Linked DNA regions of Homo sapiens: region 2 is linked to region 1. The links come from fine-mapping of genetic effects on gene expression. A gene starts in region 1. The other region holds a variant in brackets. All regions are shown on one strand. Distances are between the middles of the regions.

Region 1 (8,291 bases):
CTTCACGAGACAATGAATCCACTGTTGACCAGCCAGGGCCTTGATTAATATTTGCAAAAGAACGAACTGGAAAATTCCACCTGTGTGGGTGGAGGCTGGACCCGCAGGACTTGTCAACAACCCTGATGGCCTTGTTCTCCCAGGGATGGATCAGGCAAAGAAGCAAAGGTCGGAATAACAATGACAGAATCTGGGGATTACCGTGACTCTTGGGTCCTAGGGAATTTCCCCCCCCACCTTTTTTTTTTTTTTTTGGTTCTGCCTCTCCTGCCCCTAAATTTACACAGCACTCTTAAATCCTTCAACTTGCTTTCCTATCTGCTGTTTTGCTGTTTCTTCTGCGTTTCCTAACAGCCCTGCTGGGGAGGCAGAACTGATGTCAGCCCCATGTTACAGATGGAGAAACAGGTTCCAAAAGACTAAGAGCCTCACTCAAGGCCAACAGATGGTGAATGAGCCGCAGAACCAGGTGGTCTGGAAGCCAGGCATCTCACCGCGCTGTGGCTGCACAGAGTCTGTGCAGACCCTAGGGTCTGGGTCAGGGCCATAGGTACTTGACCCAGTGATCTTCCAGGCTCTGGCAGAGGCCCTGACCTTTGCTCTGCTTGTGAAGAAAGAGGAGGAAGTTCAAACCAGCTCCCCTGGGTGGGCAGGCTCAGGCACTGGCCTTGGATGAAGGTAGGTGTTAATTTATTCATCCATTCAAGCATTTAATGAGCACCCCCTACAAAGCCCCCCCGGACAGGAAGGCACACTGGCTGGTAGCTCTTTCAGAAACCCAGACCTAGCAGAATTTATGACTGAAGGGAGAAGGTCAGAAAATGTCCAAAGGTCGCTTCTCTCATAGACTCAAATCACTTCATCGCCCCTATCACCACCCCATTTTACAGAAAAGGAAACTGCTCTGAGAAGAGCAGTGACTTGCCAGAGCCTCCAGTTCAAAAAGCCACAAAGTCATCAGGCTTAGGCAGCCAAATAAATTGTGTGCCTTCCGGCAGGCCACCTGGGACCTCTCATGCAGGGCCACTTGAGGCATGGCCTTCTGAGCTAGGGGGGAAAACCCCCGAGGGGACAGGCAGACACACCTGTTTGCCCACCTCAACCTCCAGTTGTGGCTACAGGGCCCTTCACACCCTCTCCTCCACTCCACAGCCCCAACTACGAAACTGAACCAGGTATCACCCCATCCCTAAGCCCCAGGGGGCCAGGGCAGTGTCATTCTGAACCCAGAACAGCAGGAAAGCCACTTGGCCTGGGTCTTGGGTCTCTGCCTGGCAGCCCCTGCCTGAGTACTCCTCCTTCTTACAGCTCAGCCACCTCCAGACCACCCTCACCTGACACTTCTTCCCCTGGGGGGAGAAAGAACCTCAGCCCTTCTCTTTTTACAAAACCCCCTCCCCTATCCTTTTGCCAAGGCTTCCTGTGACTGCCACCAACCAGCCTCAGTGCCCTTGGTCTCTCTGCCCCATCTGACCCCATGAGCTCCTCCCTCACTACTGGGCTTTCCTGCTGCAGCCCCTTAGACCTCCCCACCTCCTCAGGCAAGCTCTCCTCCCCAGGGCTCTATCCTCCTCTCCTCTCCACTGCCCCCTGAGAAAGTCTGACTCATGAACCCTGTCTCCAGGCCTAACCTCCGCACCCTGGTTGTCTCAAAGCCTGTGTGCCGAACAACACCAAGCTCACAGCAGGGCCTGCCCTGGCACACAACTGAAAAGCCAGCACAGCCCAGAGCCTGGCCCACAGCACAGAATCAGATACTCACGGAATGAACGCATGTTAGTGAATGGCTGCCTGCTCGCTCGTCTCAGAGGGACTAGCCCTCTATTTTGCCCTGCAGAGCCAACCAGGTGGCCTTTCTAAAACCAAAAATGGATGACCATTTAAGCCTGTACCATTGTTCCTCAGCACCATGGGACAAAGTTCACAATCTTGAGCTTGCAGACGAGGCTGTTTTCATCTGGGCTTCCGCAGCAAGGCGGGTACTTGTGTCCTTGAAAATAATTCTCACTGCACTCATCCTCACTCCAGGAGTACCCATCAGCCAGCACCCATGTGTGGTTCACCTTTGCACCCAGCAGGTATTTGCTGAACAGGAAGATGACTATTAGAGCTGAAAATGTTCTCAAGGGCCACAGGGCCCAAAGCAACTCAGAGAGGTGGAATGAGGGGCTCAGGGTGGCCCAGTCCCAGGCAGGGGTGCGGCCACAACCTCAACTGAGTTCCTTGGTCAGGAAACAGAGCAATTCTCTGAAAATGCTACCTGCAACTCCACACGTATGCATGCCAGAGCCCAAACCCCTGGCTGATCCCCAGTCCATGCAAGCCTTAATCAAGCTGGCAGGTGGGCCAGGCCTGGCACACAAGTAGGGCCTCAGCTAAAACAGCTGCTTGACTTAGTACAGCCTCTCACCAGCTGACAACACACCCCTAAGTTCCATACCCCTCTCTAGGCCTCCGTCTTCTCATCTGTAGAATGGAGCTAATTCTGCCTACAAGTTTAAATGGCCCTGAGTTGGTCACCACAACCCTGTCGTTTGCAAACCGAGGGGGCTGAAGCAGCAGTTCCAGCCTCTGTGACTCCACTGTTAGCCCAGCTGATTTTTGTGAACTTTCCCCCAAACCCACTGTGTCTCAAAGGATGGTCCCTGGGCCACCCACCCACGAATTACGGGGGCGTGGGTGGAGGCTCGTTAAATGCAGATCCCGGGCCTGACCCGGACCTGCCGTCTGGATCTCATTTTAGGCGGCGCTAGAGATCCCGGGCCAGGGAAACTTGAGAACCGCAGCTCCAAATCGCCAGTGCTGACGGCTTCCGCTTTGGGAGCCCCAGGTGTTGCTGTCCGAACTCACTTGGTGGAAACAGACATTTACCAGAAAGCCTGGGGTCGGGCAGCGGGCACTCCTACCGCTCTAACCCCGCGTAGCTGAAAGAATTCGCTCCCTCAAAGGAGTCAGTGAGCTTCGGCAGTCTGCGTTCCACCCGTTTCGCTTCGCGCGGCGGGGCGATTGTGTAAAGCGGGCCCGGGTCTCGGCGTCCAGCCCGGCCCCAAACCTCCGGCCCCCAGGCCTCTCCGGGCTAGCGGCCGGGCGGCGCTGCTGCGGGGTGGTCGGGGCGCCTCCGCGGCTACTCACCCGGGGCGACTCGGCCGAGAGCCCGACAGTCGGGACCGGAGCGGGAGGAGCGGGTGGCCGCGGCCCGGCCCCTGCCCCGCGGCACTTTAACCGGCGGCGCCGGCGCCCCGCGCGCTCTCTGCGTCCGGAATGGGGACGCAGCAGTTCCGACCCGGTCGGCCCCGGAGCCGCGAGGCTAGCTGGGCTCCAGCGGAGGCGCGCGAAGCCCGAGGGCGGGTGCAGCTGATGCACCTGGCTCACTGCATGCACGTGTGCGCGGGGGTAGGCGCGCGCCGCGGCGGCCCGTGCTCCGCCAGCGCTCGGACACGGCCCATCCCTCCGAGCCCCAGCAGGCGAGGGCGCTGCGACCTGCCCCAGCCTGGGAGGGGGCCAGCGGGCCCGCCCTCTGTTCGGGTGGCGGGAATGGGTCGGCGCTGCGAGAGGCGGAGCCGAGAAGGGGCGGCCCGGCGGCGCCGGGATAAAAGCGCAGCGTGCGGGTGGCCTGGATCCCGCGCAGTGGCCCGGCGATGTCGCTCGTGCTGCTAAGCCTGGCCGCGCTGTGCAGGAGCGCCGTACCCCGAGAGCCGGTAAGCCCCCGCCAGCACCTCTTCCCTCATCTCCCGGCCCTCGAGCCCAGATCCTGACGTCGTCTGATCCGCCAGTCCAGGCTGCCCCGAAGGCGTGCGCGGACTGCCGGCTCAAGGGGCATGCCTGCACCCTCAGGGCAGCCCCGGACATCGGCGTCAGGTTGCTTGAGTCAGGGGCGTGGGAATCAGACAGACCCGGTCTCAGATGCCACCCTGTACTGTTGGTTCTGTCATTTATGCTCACCAAGTTCCAAGTCCCGAACGGTAAAACGAAGGGCAGTACCGAACCCACCAGGGTCTCTTAAGGTATAACGACATGGCCTGCAATTAGCGGCGAAGGGCCTGGCACGTAGTTATTGTTACTTGGGGTCTGCTCACCTGTTGGGGCACAAGAACTGTTTCTCCATTAGTACCCCCTCCCTTTTTGGCCATATTGATTGCCATGTTCACTCGTGAAGGCAGTTGCCTTTCTTCCCCAGTACCCTGAATGATCGAGGGAATCTTCTGGGTCACTGAAGAGAAAATAGCTCATCCCCCAAATAACCTTTGAAATGATACCGCTGCCCTCTTAGAATAGCATATAGCATCAAGCTCCGTAGTCACCTGCTGGTGGACAAACCCCATTCACTGTTTCCTGATGTCTTCAGCTCCTATCCTTCCCCTCTGTGTCAGTTCAGAAGCCCTCTTGGCTCTTTGCACTAAAGGGAAGAATTCATCCCTTTTGCTGTAGTTGCTGCAAGGCCAACAATTTGAGCTTGGTAGCATTTAGGGTTGTTGCTTGGCCTCTCACCGGCCGTTTGATAAGAACTCAGCTCCTGGTATGATGGCTCATTTGTTAAAAAAAAAAAAAAAAAGTCAAGTCTGGCCGGGCTCGGTGGCTCACGCCTGTAATCCCAGCACTTTGGGAGGCTGAGGCGGCCGGATTGCCTGAGGTCAGGAGTTTGGGAACAGCCTGGCTAACATGGTGAAACCCCGTCTCTACTAAAAATACAAAAAGTAGCCGGGCATGGTGGCAGGCGCCTGTAATCCCAGCTACTCCGGAGGCTGAGGCAGGAGAATCACTTGAACCCGGGAGCCAGAGGTTGCAGTGAGCCGAGATCTGCGCCACTGTACTCCAGCCTGGGTGACAAAGTGAGACTCTGTCTCAGAAAAAGGAAAAAAAAATCTGATGATATCCCTTAGAGTTCATTTTTTAAAAGACAAATAAATGATTGACAATTTTGCCCAAACTCAAATCATTCAAACCATCAAAAGGAGATCTTAGAAGGTGTTTGGAAATGTGGATGCTCAGCAGCATATTCCAGAGCTGCTGGACGTATCACATTGAGTCTTGTCATTTGAGCTTGCTGCTGCCTAAAGCCCCAATATTTTAGGTTCAGTATTTTATTCCAGAACCAAAGCACAAATTATTTTTTCTTATGAAAAAACACGAGCAGCTAACTTCAAACGATTTAGTACCAGCCTTTCTTGAACACTAATAATTGCTTATGGTTTCGTGAATTGCTCAGTGAGTCCTTTTGTGTTAGAAGGGGAACATTTTAAAGAACCTGAGGAAAGTACCATGGACTGCATTCAGAGCTTTCTTTTGTTTATCTCCTTAGCATAGCTACTCCTTAACCTGGGGTAGCCCAGTAAATACTCTAGGCCGTCCTAAAAACCTAGAGTTAAACATTAGAGTGTGAAGGGGCCTCACATCGGTCCCAAGTCATCCCCTGCTTGCAGCAGGGAAGGATGACATCCAGAGACAGATGGAGACCCACCTGTGGTCTTCAAGTGAGGTTATGCACTGGCTTGAGGATCAGGTATACTGATGGCTAATCCATGGTCCGTCATAGCCTACAGTGGGACAGCTTAGTTCCCCCCTAAGCTGTGAAGCAGAACCAGTTCATCTTTTCTTTGAAAGTTTGTCACTTGTATATGCATTTAAGGGGAAAATGGTGTTCTGCCTAATTTGGCAAAGGAAAGCTTGTGGTTTGCCGGCTTCAACGTGACGCTTGGTTTTTTCTCTCCCACAGACCGTTCAATGTGGCTCTGAAACTGGTAGGTGCATTAGAGAATGGGTATTTGGGGCTTTACATTGAAAGCACAGTTGGACTTTTAGGAAGCCTAATATAGGCAATAGGTCATCGAAGACCAGACACAGGGTGACCCATTGCTTTATTGGCTGATGCAGATGAAGTCTCTGTCTGCTCGAAGCAGAACTCTGGGGCTCTGTGGGAATGAGGCCGTGTTTCAGACAGGCTAGCCTCTTGGCCAGTCAAGATGGGACTTGCCATACAAGGTGGAAAGTGATGCCTGCCACTCTGCAGAGGGAGATCAAGGCCGTGGAAGGAAGGTCACTTAGAGTTGGGACCGAGAAGCAAATGTTTCATAGGAGAGCGGGTGTTTGAGATGGTGGCATTTGAAGAATGGGTAGGCTTCTGCCCAAAAAATGTGGGTAGGAAGAGTGAGCTGGAGGAGAGATGGCACCAGCAAAGGTTAGGAGGTGGGAAAGTGGGGGCTGTGTGGGCCAGCTGGCTGGAATCCAGGGCCAAAGCCTGAGGAAGGCAGGCCTGACTCTAATAAACATGTCAAATACACTAAATATATACATGTGTACATACACAGGTACCTGGAGTGGTCCCACGTGCTCTGTAGGTGAAAGCCAGGAGGTTGAGAGTACTTCTGTTAGATCAAAATTATCTGGGCTATAAATCAGCCAGCGCTAAGAAACATTTGGCCTTAGCAGGAAGAACTGAGGAATTGGGTCAGGCGTGGTGGCTTATACCTATAATCCAAGCACTTTGGGAGGCTGAGGTGGGAGGATCATTTGAGGCCAGGAGTTTGAGATCATCTTAGGCAACAGAGTGAGACCCCATCTCTACAAAAAACATTTTTTTAATTAAAAAAAAAAGAAGTGAGGAATTGTGAATGGGGGAAGGTTTGGTGTGAGTCACTGAGAGGAGATGGCATGGCATCAGACTGGGCTGGGAAAGACAGTGTCATGGAAGTCTTGCTTTTTCCCAGGGCCATCTCCAGAGTGGATGCTACAACATGATCTAATCCCCGGAGACTTGAGGGACCTCCGAGTAGAACCTGTTACAACTAGTGTTGCAACAGGGGACTATTCAATTTTGATGAATGTAAGCTGGGTACTCCGGGCAGATGGTAAGTTTGCATCCATCAGAGATAAGGCCCAAAGTGTCTACTAAATCAGAAATGTGCAGACTATATGAACCATTAATTCCCCTTCTACGCATAACCAACAGAAATACATGCATACACGCACCAAAAGCCACATACTAGGGTGATCGCAGTAGCACTACTTACAACAGGCAACATTAGAAAGCACTCAAATGCCCAACAGTAGAAAGGAATCACCAGATAAATTCCGTCACAGCAACAAGAATGAATGATCTGTAACTACGTACAACAATATGGATGAATGTCACAAACATAAGGCAGATTCAAAAGAGTTTGTACATTTATATCTGTGTGCATGCCTGCAGGCATACATGCCATATGATCCCATTTACAGAAAGTGCCAAGCAAACAAAACCAATCTAGTGTTTAGAAGTCAGGATAGTAGCCAGGAGCGGTGGCTAACGCCTGTAATCCCAGCACTTTGGGAGGCCGAGGTGGGTGGATCACTTGAGGCCAGGAGTTCGAGACCAGCCTGGCCAACATGGCAAAACCCCATCTCTACTAAGAATACAAAAATTAGCCAGATGTGGTGTTGCACACCTGTAATCCCAGCTACTCGGGAGGCTGAGGCACGAGAATCGCTTGAACCCAGGAGGCGGAGCTTGCAGTGAGCTGTGATCGCACCACTGCACTCCAGCAGCCTGGGCAACAGAGTGAAACTCCGTCTCAAAAAAAAAAAAAAAAGCAAAAGACCAGGCGTGGTGGCGCATGCCTGTAATCCCAGCACTTTGGGAGGCCAAGGCGGGTAGATTACTTGAGGTCAGGAGTTCAAGACCAGCCTGGCCAACATGGTGAAACTCCATCTCTCCTAAAAATACAAAAAATTAGCCAGGCATGGTGGCACATGCCTGTAATCCCAGCTACTTGGGAGGCTGAGGCAGGAGAATAACTTGAACCCAGGAGGTGGAGGTTGCAGTGAGTTGAGACTGTGCCATTGCACTCCTGCCTGGGTGACAGAGAGACTGTCTCAAAATAAAATAAAATAAAATAAAATAAAAGTCAGGGTAGTGGTTCCTGCTGGGGTAGGAATAACTGTAAGGAAGTATGAGGAGCACACCTGAGGGAGTTTCTTAACCTGCATACTGGTTGCATGAGTGTCCCGATGCATCAAGTGGTACACTTATGTGTGTACTTTTCTGTGTATGTACTTCATGGAAGAAGATAAGGTAAGGCGAGAGATGATTTTCCCCACCCCACTTCAGTTTAGGGAAAGCACTGGCTTAGATAGATTACTTTTCCACTTCCCAGATGACGTCACGAAGCTTTTGGCATTTCCCCAAGATTGTGCTGCAAGGCACCATATGAGTTCTTTCAGTGAGCTACTCCTGGGATCCTAATGCCCATCCTTTTGGTTTCCATCTGCTAAATTCAGATCGGAAAAAAGTCTACCTGGTCAAGAATCCATGAGTG
Region 2 (8,335 bases), 100 kb after region 1:
CCCTGTTTCCCACTGCCTTTTTTCCATGAAGCCCATGAAATTTTTATCTAGCCTGGGATGGAGAAGGGACAGCTGTTGGACAGGAAAGCTATCCCCTACTGTACATTCTTGCAAATCTTCTAATTAATGCAAGGAGAAGCTTTTGTAATTAAAAAGCTAGTCATTGACCCCTCTATTTATTGTGCTCTATTTTAAAATAGTATCCTGCCACCGTGGCATGGCTTTATTTTGTGGAAAATGCTAAGCAACTCCATATCTTTGGTTGCCTGGCTAATATCTGTACAGGTTGGCTGTTTTAGACTCCTGTGTGGGCACCATGAGGGGCCTGTGGGCCCCTTAGTGTTTGGCACTGGCACTCCGCCTGTCTAATGACAGCATCTTACCAAAGACACATTCTCTCTGAGTTGTTGAATATGATTTTCAAGGTCGTTGATGATAGTTTTTGTGCACAGGAGAGATTATTCAGAAGTACCTTTGATTTTTAAATTGGTCTTTGATTTATTAGTTAGAATTTAAAGAAAATCTTTTGTATTTTTAAGCTTTTAAGTTTAGATTACAAATCTTATTATTTTATTTATAAGCCTAGCAAGTTATAAGTCACTTCTAAGGAGGCTTTGATTAATGTTTGGTCCCATTTAAAAACTTGGTTAAACTACTTTTAAACTGCTTTTATAAATTTAATATATTCAATTTCCTTTTAGGTACTATAATTGTCTGACTTAACAAAACCTTCCCGAACACTTAAATAACTTATAAATCTAATATATTAGACTTAGAAATATGGTAAACTTTTAGTTCTTTTAACGTATTCAATTCTGTAATAAACCTATTAAATCTGAACTTAACATCACAAGTCTACATCAATTACATATTTAAAATTAGAATCAAAAGAATAACCTCTTATTCCATTAGGCTCAATTCTCTTAAACATTATATAAGTACATAAAACATCACCAAACATGCATAGAGTTCTTCACCTGAAAATATTAATGCTACATATTTTGAAACCACCCAATTGTCCCATAGAACTGATGTTTGTGGTTTCTTTTGAATAAACATAGAAATTGACCCTCCCACTTTTGAAACTTGCAAAAGTTACATTTGTCTTATCTGAGTTCCTTTCTCAGAAAACCAACCATCAGGCCTCCCAGATAACATCAAGGAACTGAAACTTACCAGATTACCACATCTGGACAATGAGAGGCCAGACCCCTCACCTGTCATGATTGCCTAGCCCACCACCTGCTTCCTGTTGACCAATTCCTCTTCCTTACCTCTCCCTAATTCCTGTTTTCCCACATGGTTACATTTTCTCCCTGCTATTTTAGTCAGTCAGGGAGACAGATTTAAGACTGATCTCCCATCCCCTTGGCTGCAGCTCCTGATTAAAGCCTTCTTCCCTGGCAATATTTGTTGTTTCAGTGATTGGCTTTCTGTGTGGTGAGCAGCAGGACCTAGATCAAACCCCTGGTGTTTCACTAATAATTTGAGATTCTTAAACATTTCTATGTTGATTTTTAAACCAGCCTGGAATTAAAAGATGCTGATGCACCAAGAAATAACCATGCTATCCTGGACAATCTTCCTCATCTTTTCTTTTTTCCTTTATATGTTTGCTCCCCAACCAACCTGACTACATCTCAGTTGCCACCAACTGCCCCTGTGAATTCAATTAAAGTTGCTCTCTTACTGCCCTTGTGAATTCAATTAAAGTTGCTCTCTTAGGGTTTCTGCTTTCTTGCCTGCCTTCCTTTCTTTCTCTTTCCTTTTCTTTTTTTCTCTTCTCTTCTCTTCTTCTCTTCTCTCTTTTCTTTTCTTTCTTTTTTGAGATGGAGCCTCGCTCTGTTTCCCAGGCTGGAGTGCAGTGGCGCCATCTTGGCTCACTGCAAGCTCCGCCTCCCGGGGTCATGCCGTTCTCCTGTCTCAGCCTCCTGAGTAGCTGGGACTACAGGTGCCTGCCACCATGCTCAGCTAATTTTTCATAATTTTTTTAGTAGAGAAGGGGTTTCACCGTGTTAGCCAGGATGGTCTCGATCTCCTGACCTCTTGATCCGCCCACCTCAGCCTCCCAAAGTGCTGGGATTGCAGGCATGAGCCACCACATCCAGCCAGGGTTTGTGTTTTCTTTACCTATGAAAATTGGATGGGCCTGGTGTGGTGGCTCACACCTATAGTCCCAGCACTTTGGGAGGCTGAGGCTGGTGGATTGCTTGAGCCCAGGACTTCAAGACCAGCCTAGGCAACATGGTGAAACCCTGACTCAACAAAAAATACAAAAATTAGCTGAGTGTGGTGGTCTATGCCTATGGTCCCAGCTCCTTGGGAGGTTGAGGTGGGAGGATCACTTGGGCCCCAAAGACGGAGGTTGCAGTGAGCCAAGATCATGCCACTGCACTGCAGCCTGAGTGACAGAGGGAGACCCTGTTTCAAAAACAAACAAACACACCAAAAAAAACCTGGAAGAGATTAGGTTAGGTGATCTCTAAAGTCTTAGCCATAAAATTCTGGAATTCATATTTTTCTGTTTATTCACAAACATAATTTTCCATTTAGATTTATGAGAATGAACAAAATTGCTAAAAAACAACACTTACTTTGCTTGTAAAGCTACCAATACAGAGAATGCTCACTATTGCACATATTATGTTTGCAGTCTGCTCCTGTTGCAAAGATTCTAATGATGTTTGGGCTTCTTGACCTCAGAATACAAGCAGTCAAGAAGTCACATCTGGAAACATCTACGGTGTTTTAAAGCCAGGAGGATATAGTTGTAAAGTACATGTTCCAGTTTATTTTGAAAATTGTGTCCCTGATTGATGGGTTTTGTCATTGCTACTCCTTCTGAGAATGGACTGAATTATCCTCTCTATGCCTGCCATTTTATGCCTAGTTTCTGAAATAGTATATTGAGTAAAAAATAAATGGAAGGTGGTATGCATAACAGTAAAGGGTGGGAGCTTGAATTAGACCCCCTTTTGTTCAAATACAGATTCACTCCTTAAAAGCATTGTGACTTTGATGAACAACTTTATGCCAACAAATTGGATAACTCACATGAAAGGGGCAAATTTCTAGAAAGACACAAGCAACTGAAATTTACTCAAGAAGAAATTAAAAATCTGATAGACCTTTCAAAAGCAAAGATAATAAATTAATACTTAACAATCTTCACACAAAGAAAAGCCCAGGGTCTGGTGATTTCACTGGTGAATTTTATCAAACATTTAAATAAGAGATTATACCAGTACTGCAAATTTTTTTTTCTGAAAATACAGAGTGAAATACTTCCCCATGCATTCTATCAGGCCAGTGTTACCCTGATGCCAAAACCAGGAGAAGACATCATAAGAAAGGAAAACTATAGACCTGTATCCCTTATGAATATAGATGTAAAAATTCTCAAAAAAATTAGCCAACTGAATCCAGTAATATACTCCAAAAATTATACACCTTGACCAAGTAGGATTTAACCTAGGAATGCAAGGTTGGTTTAACATCCAAATATCAACTAATGTAATACACCAAATACAACATAATCGTCTCAATAGATAGAGAAAAACCATATACCAGTATCTAACACCCATTCATGATTTTAAAAAAGTTATTAAACTAGAAGGACATTTCCATAACCTGGTAAACAGCATCTATGAAAAAACCCATGATGAACAATATACTTAATGGTAAAAGACTGAATGCTTTCCCCCTGACATTAGGACCAAGGCAACTTGGTTGCCTTGCTGTCCTTGCTGCCACCTCTTTTATTCAGAATTGTACTGGTGGTTCTAGACAGTGAAATCAGGAATGAAAAAGAAATAAAAGGCATCCAGATTAGAAAGGAAAAAGTAAAATTGTTTTTGTTCACAGAGGATCCTATATATAGAATTCATGATTCTATATGTAGAATACTATAAGGAATACACACACACACACCCTGTTAGAACTAATAAACAAATATAGTAAGGTCACAGGATACAAGATCACTATACAGAAACCAGCTGTATTTGTATGAGCAATGAACAGTCCAAAAATGAAATTAAGGTTATAATTTCAGGCTGGGCATGGTGGTTTATGCTTGTAATTCCAGCACATTAGGAGGCTAAGGTGGGAGGATCACTTGAGCCCAGGAGTTTGAAACCAGCCTGGACAACAGAAGGAGACCTTGTCTTTACCAAAAGTAGAAAAAAAATTAGCCAGGTGTCATGGTGCACCTGTATGGTCTCACCTACTTGGGAGACTGAAGTAAGGGTATCACTTGAGCTCAGGAGGTCAAGGCTGCAGTAAGCCGTGATTGCACCACTGCACTCCAGCCTGGGTGACAGAGCAAGCCCCTGC[CA/C]AAAAAAAAAAAAAAAAGAAAAGAAAAAAAAGAAAAAAGAATATAATTCCGTTCACGGTAGTATCAAAAATACTTAGGAATAAAATTTTTAAAAGAAGTGTAAGGCTATACACTGAAAATTTCAAAGCTTTGCTGAGGGAAATTAGAGAGGATTTAAGTAAATGGAGAGACATTCCATGTCTAGTGTTTGAAAGACCCAGTATTATTAAGATGCCAGTTCCTCCCAAATTGATCTATAGATAAACGCAATCCCTATCAAAATTCCGGCGGGATTTTTTTTTTGGCAGAAATTGAAAAGCAGATCCTAAAATTTATAGAAAAATGCAAACACCTAAAATAGCCAAAACAATTTTGAAAAAGAAGAGTAAAATTGGAGGATTTTCATCTCCCAATGTCAAAATTCACTGTTAAACTACAGTTATCAAGATAGTGTGGTACTGGCATAAGGACAGATACATAAATCAAAGGAAGAGAATTAACAGTCCAGGAATAAATCCTTGCTTCTGTAGTCAGTTGGTTTTTGGCAAGATGCCAAGGCAATTCTCTGGGGGAATGGATAGTCTATTCAACAAATGGTGCTGGGATAATTAGATATCTATATGTAAAGAGATAAACTTACATCCTTGCTTCATACAATATACAAACATTAACTCAAAACGAATCATAATTTAAATGTAAGAGTTAAAACAGTAAAACTCGTAGAAGAAAACATATAATTTTCTAGACCATGAGTTAAGAAAAAATGTATTAGATACAACAATAAAAAAAGCACATCAGTAAAAGAAAAAAATTGTTAAATTGGGCCTCATCAAAATTCAAAACTTTTGAACTTCAAAAAACACTATTAAGAAAATGAAAGGACAGGAAACAGACTGGGAGAAAATATTTTCAAAACATATATCCAATAAAGGACTTATATCCACCATTTACAAAGAACACTTACAATTCAATTATAAGAAGACAAAAATCCAATTAAAAAATTGGCAGAAGATATAAATAGACTTTTCACCAGCAAAATGTGTGTGTGTGTGTGTGTGTGTATGTGTGTGTGGTGTATGTATGTATGGCTAATAAGTACATGGAAAGATGTTCAATGCTATTAGTCATTTTGAAATGCAAATTAAAATCACAGTGAGACAGCATTTCACACTCACTAGAATGCCTATCATAAATAAGACAATAACAAATGTTGGTTAGGATGTGGAGAGACAGGAATTTTTATACGCTGCTGGTAGGAATGTAAAATGATGCTGCCACTTTGAAAACACTTCGGCAGTTTCTCAAAAAATTAAACATAAAACTACCATAGGACACTACAATTCTACTCCTAGGTAGAGAGAGATGAAAGAAAAATGAAAACATAAATCCACATGTAAGGCTTGCATACAGCTATTCATAACAGTGTTATCCATATAGGCCAAACCTGTAACAACCCAAATGTTCATCAACTGGTGAACCGATAGACAAAATGGGGTATAACCATACAATGGAATACTATTCAGCAATGAAAAGCAATGAACTACTGACACCACATCACAGATGAAGCTCAAAAATATTATGCTAAGTGTGAGAAGCAAGACACAAGAGACTATATATACATGATCCCATATATATGAAATGTCCAGAAAAGGCAAATTTATACAGACAAGGTGGATTAGTTGTTGCATGGGGCTCAGAGTATTAGTAAGAAGTAACTGTAAATGGGCATGAGGGATCTTATTGGAGGGATGAAAATGTTCCGGAACGGATGTATGGTATGGTTGCACCACTTGGTAAACTTACTAAAAATAATGAATTGTACACTTGAACTGGGTGAATTTTATGATATGCAAAAAAATTGTGAAGTTGTTATAAAGAAAAAGCAGGTGACTTTGGGCAGGTGACTTAATCTCTCTCTGCTTTAGCTTTTTCACCTGTACAATAGAGATACTGAGCGTGTTCGCCTCATAGGGTCATTGGGCAGAGTGAGTGAGATAGCATATACATAATGTTTAAAATTAGAGTGCCTGACATGTAGTAGTCACTCAATGAAATGATTATTCTGAAATCACTTCGGAATGATTATTCTGAAACATTGGAACACAGGTTTGAAGGAATAAGAAGTTTGTTTCTTTTATGGGAAGATACTAGCATGTTAAAAAACACTTACCTCTTATTTGACACTAAACTCTGTATCAGTGGCATAGAAAAACTGGTAGGAAAGAAAAAAATATTTGTGGGAAACTGATAAAATTTGGCTTAACAGGTCAAATAGACAAAGAATTAAGTTTCAGGGATAATGAAACTAGAACGATTTATCATTTCTACTTATTAAATTCCAACTTAGTAGAAGTGAAAGATATTATTAGCCAAAATAAACTTCAATCAAGATGCAGTAAATGTTTTTCTTTTTTATTTAAAAATTTTAAGTATATAAAACATTTATACAGTTTCAAAGTCAAAACTACACAATAAAATACATAAAGAAGTCTAGCTTCTTTCCCAATTCCTTCTAACTTGTCCCCTTCTTCCCTCACAGGTAACTTTTTTTTTTAAGTTTTTGGATTATCCCTTGCTTTTTACTTTTTTGAAAATAAAAGCAAACATATACATATGTGTGTGTGTATATATATATACATATATGTAAATATATATGAAAATAAAAGCAAACATATACACACATATATGGCCTTTCAACCAGTTGACCAGGATAAATTTATTTATTTTTAGAGAGAGCATCTTGATTTGTTGCCCAGGCTGTAGTGCAATTGTGCAGTAATGGCTCACTGCAGCCTCAAACTCCTGGGCTCAAATGATTTTCCTGCATCAGCCTTCCAAGCAGCTGGGACTACAGGCTCATGCCACCATGCCTGGCTAATTATATTTTTTATTTCTCATAAAGACAAGGTCTTGCTTTATTGCCCAGGCTGATCTTGAACTCCCGGCCTCAAGTAATCCTCCTGCCTTCGCCTCCCAAAGGCAAACATGTATTTTTATCAATTAATTAATAACATGTAGTGTATCAAGTCAAATGCCAGGTTACTTGGAGTTTGACAGAGCCATAGATATGTTTCTCCCCTCCCCGTTTCTTACCAAAAGAAAGGTACCTTACTATCAACCTTGTCCCCATGCTTCTTGCTTTTTTCGTTTAACAATATATCCTAGTCATTATGCCATGGCAGTAGAGATCTTTCCCATTCCTTTTTTTGAGTGACATAGTACTCCATTGCACAGCACCATGGTTTATTCAGCTAGATTCTTGGTGATGATCATTTGGATTGCTTCCAGTCTCTATTATACGTAATGCTGCAATGCATAGCCTTGAAGTTGCAGCAAATTTAAGGTGCAAACTATGAACATTCCTTGGCATCTGAAAAAGTTTGTTCCTTAGTAAGCCAAGTTAGCTACTGTTTATATAATTGATGCAGCACTGTTTGTGAAGAGATTCCATTTGGAGCACTTGTTGGTTTGAATCACCTTGGAATTATTCATTTTTCTAAGCTACTAGAATGTTTTGGAAACAAATCCCTGATAGTAAATACCATTTCTTATTAACTATGTTATGTAAATATTGAATTGTTTAATATCTATTACCAAATTGTTTGACCATCTTTAATTAGTATTTCAGGACTTTCTGTTTTGTTGTACTAGGCATCAACTCTGTGAACTTGTTTCATGTATTGAAGCAGGGAAATTGTGGGAAATTTGGGATCAACAAAATTTATCAAGTCAAATGTCAAGTATTTAGAGTCTGACAAAGCCCTAGATATATTTTGTGAAGACTTTTAAATGTCTTGACACTTTTACAAACATTTATAGTTTTCAACTTTGATTGCTTTTTACACATTATCTGTGTTCACTGGAGAAAAATTAAGGAGTTCAGACAAACAGAAAAATAAGTCCCTGTAATTCCAATCCCCAGAGATAACAAATATTAGCATTTGGGTACATATTTTTCTAGACTTTTTCAATGAACATAAATGGCTCCCTTCTTCTCCAATACCCATGCACATCTAATTTCTT

Direction of the effects. Positions count from the first base shown, and alleles are read on the strand shown. Sizes are in standard deviations (SD) of each study's normalised expression.
With allele CA in place of C in region 2, the expression in skin of the gene that starts at base 3,618 in region 1 is higher (moderate effect, 0.43 SD a copy in TwinsUK).

What was found. PIP is the estimated chance that this variant, and not a neighbour inherited with it, causes the effect.
Region 2: its variant is fine-mapped to the expression of IL17RB in skin (TwinsUK, PIP 0.95).

Annotation. Positions count from the first base shown.
Region 1 is chr3:53,842,951-53,851,241 of GRCh38, forward strand. It overlaps IL17RB (interleukin 17 receptor B), which reads left to right and starts at 3,618. Exons shown (of 11, transcript NM_018725.4): 1 at 3,618-3,698; 2 at 5,714-5,738; 3 at 6,705-6,845. The coding sequence starts at 3,639. It overlaps CHDH (choline dehydrogenase), which reads right to left and starts at 3,469. Exons shown (of 9, transcript NM_018397.5): 1 at 3,133-3,469. RefSeq lists enhancers at 1,744-2,584, 2,585-3,425, 3,372-3,666 and a silencer at 3,017-3,666.
Region 2 is chr3:53,944,882-53,953,216 of GRCh38, forward strand. No RefSeq gene overlaps it. Among named protein-coding and RNA genes, the nearest start is that of SELENOK, 57 kb to the left of the region's middle. The variant CA/C (reference allele first, on the strand shown) is at 4,333.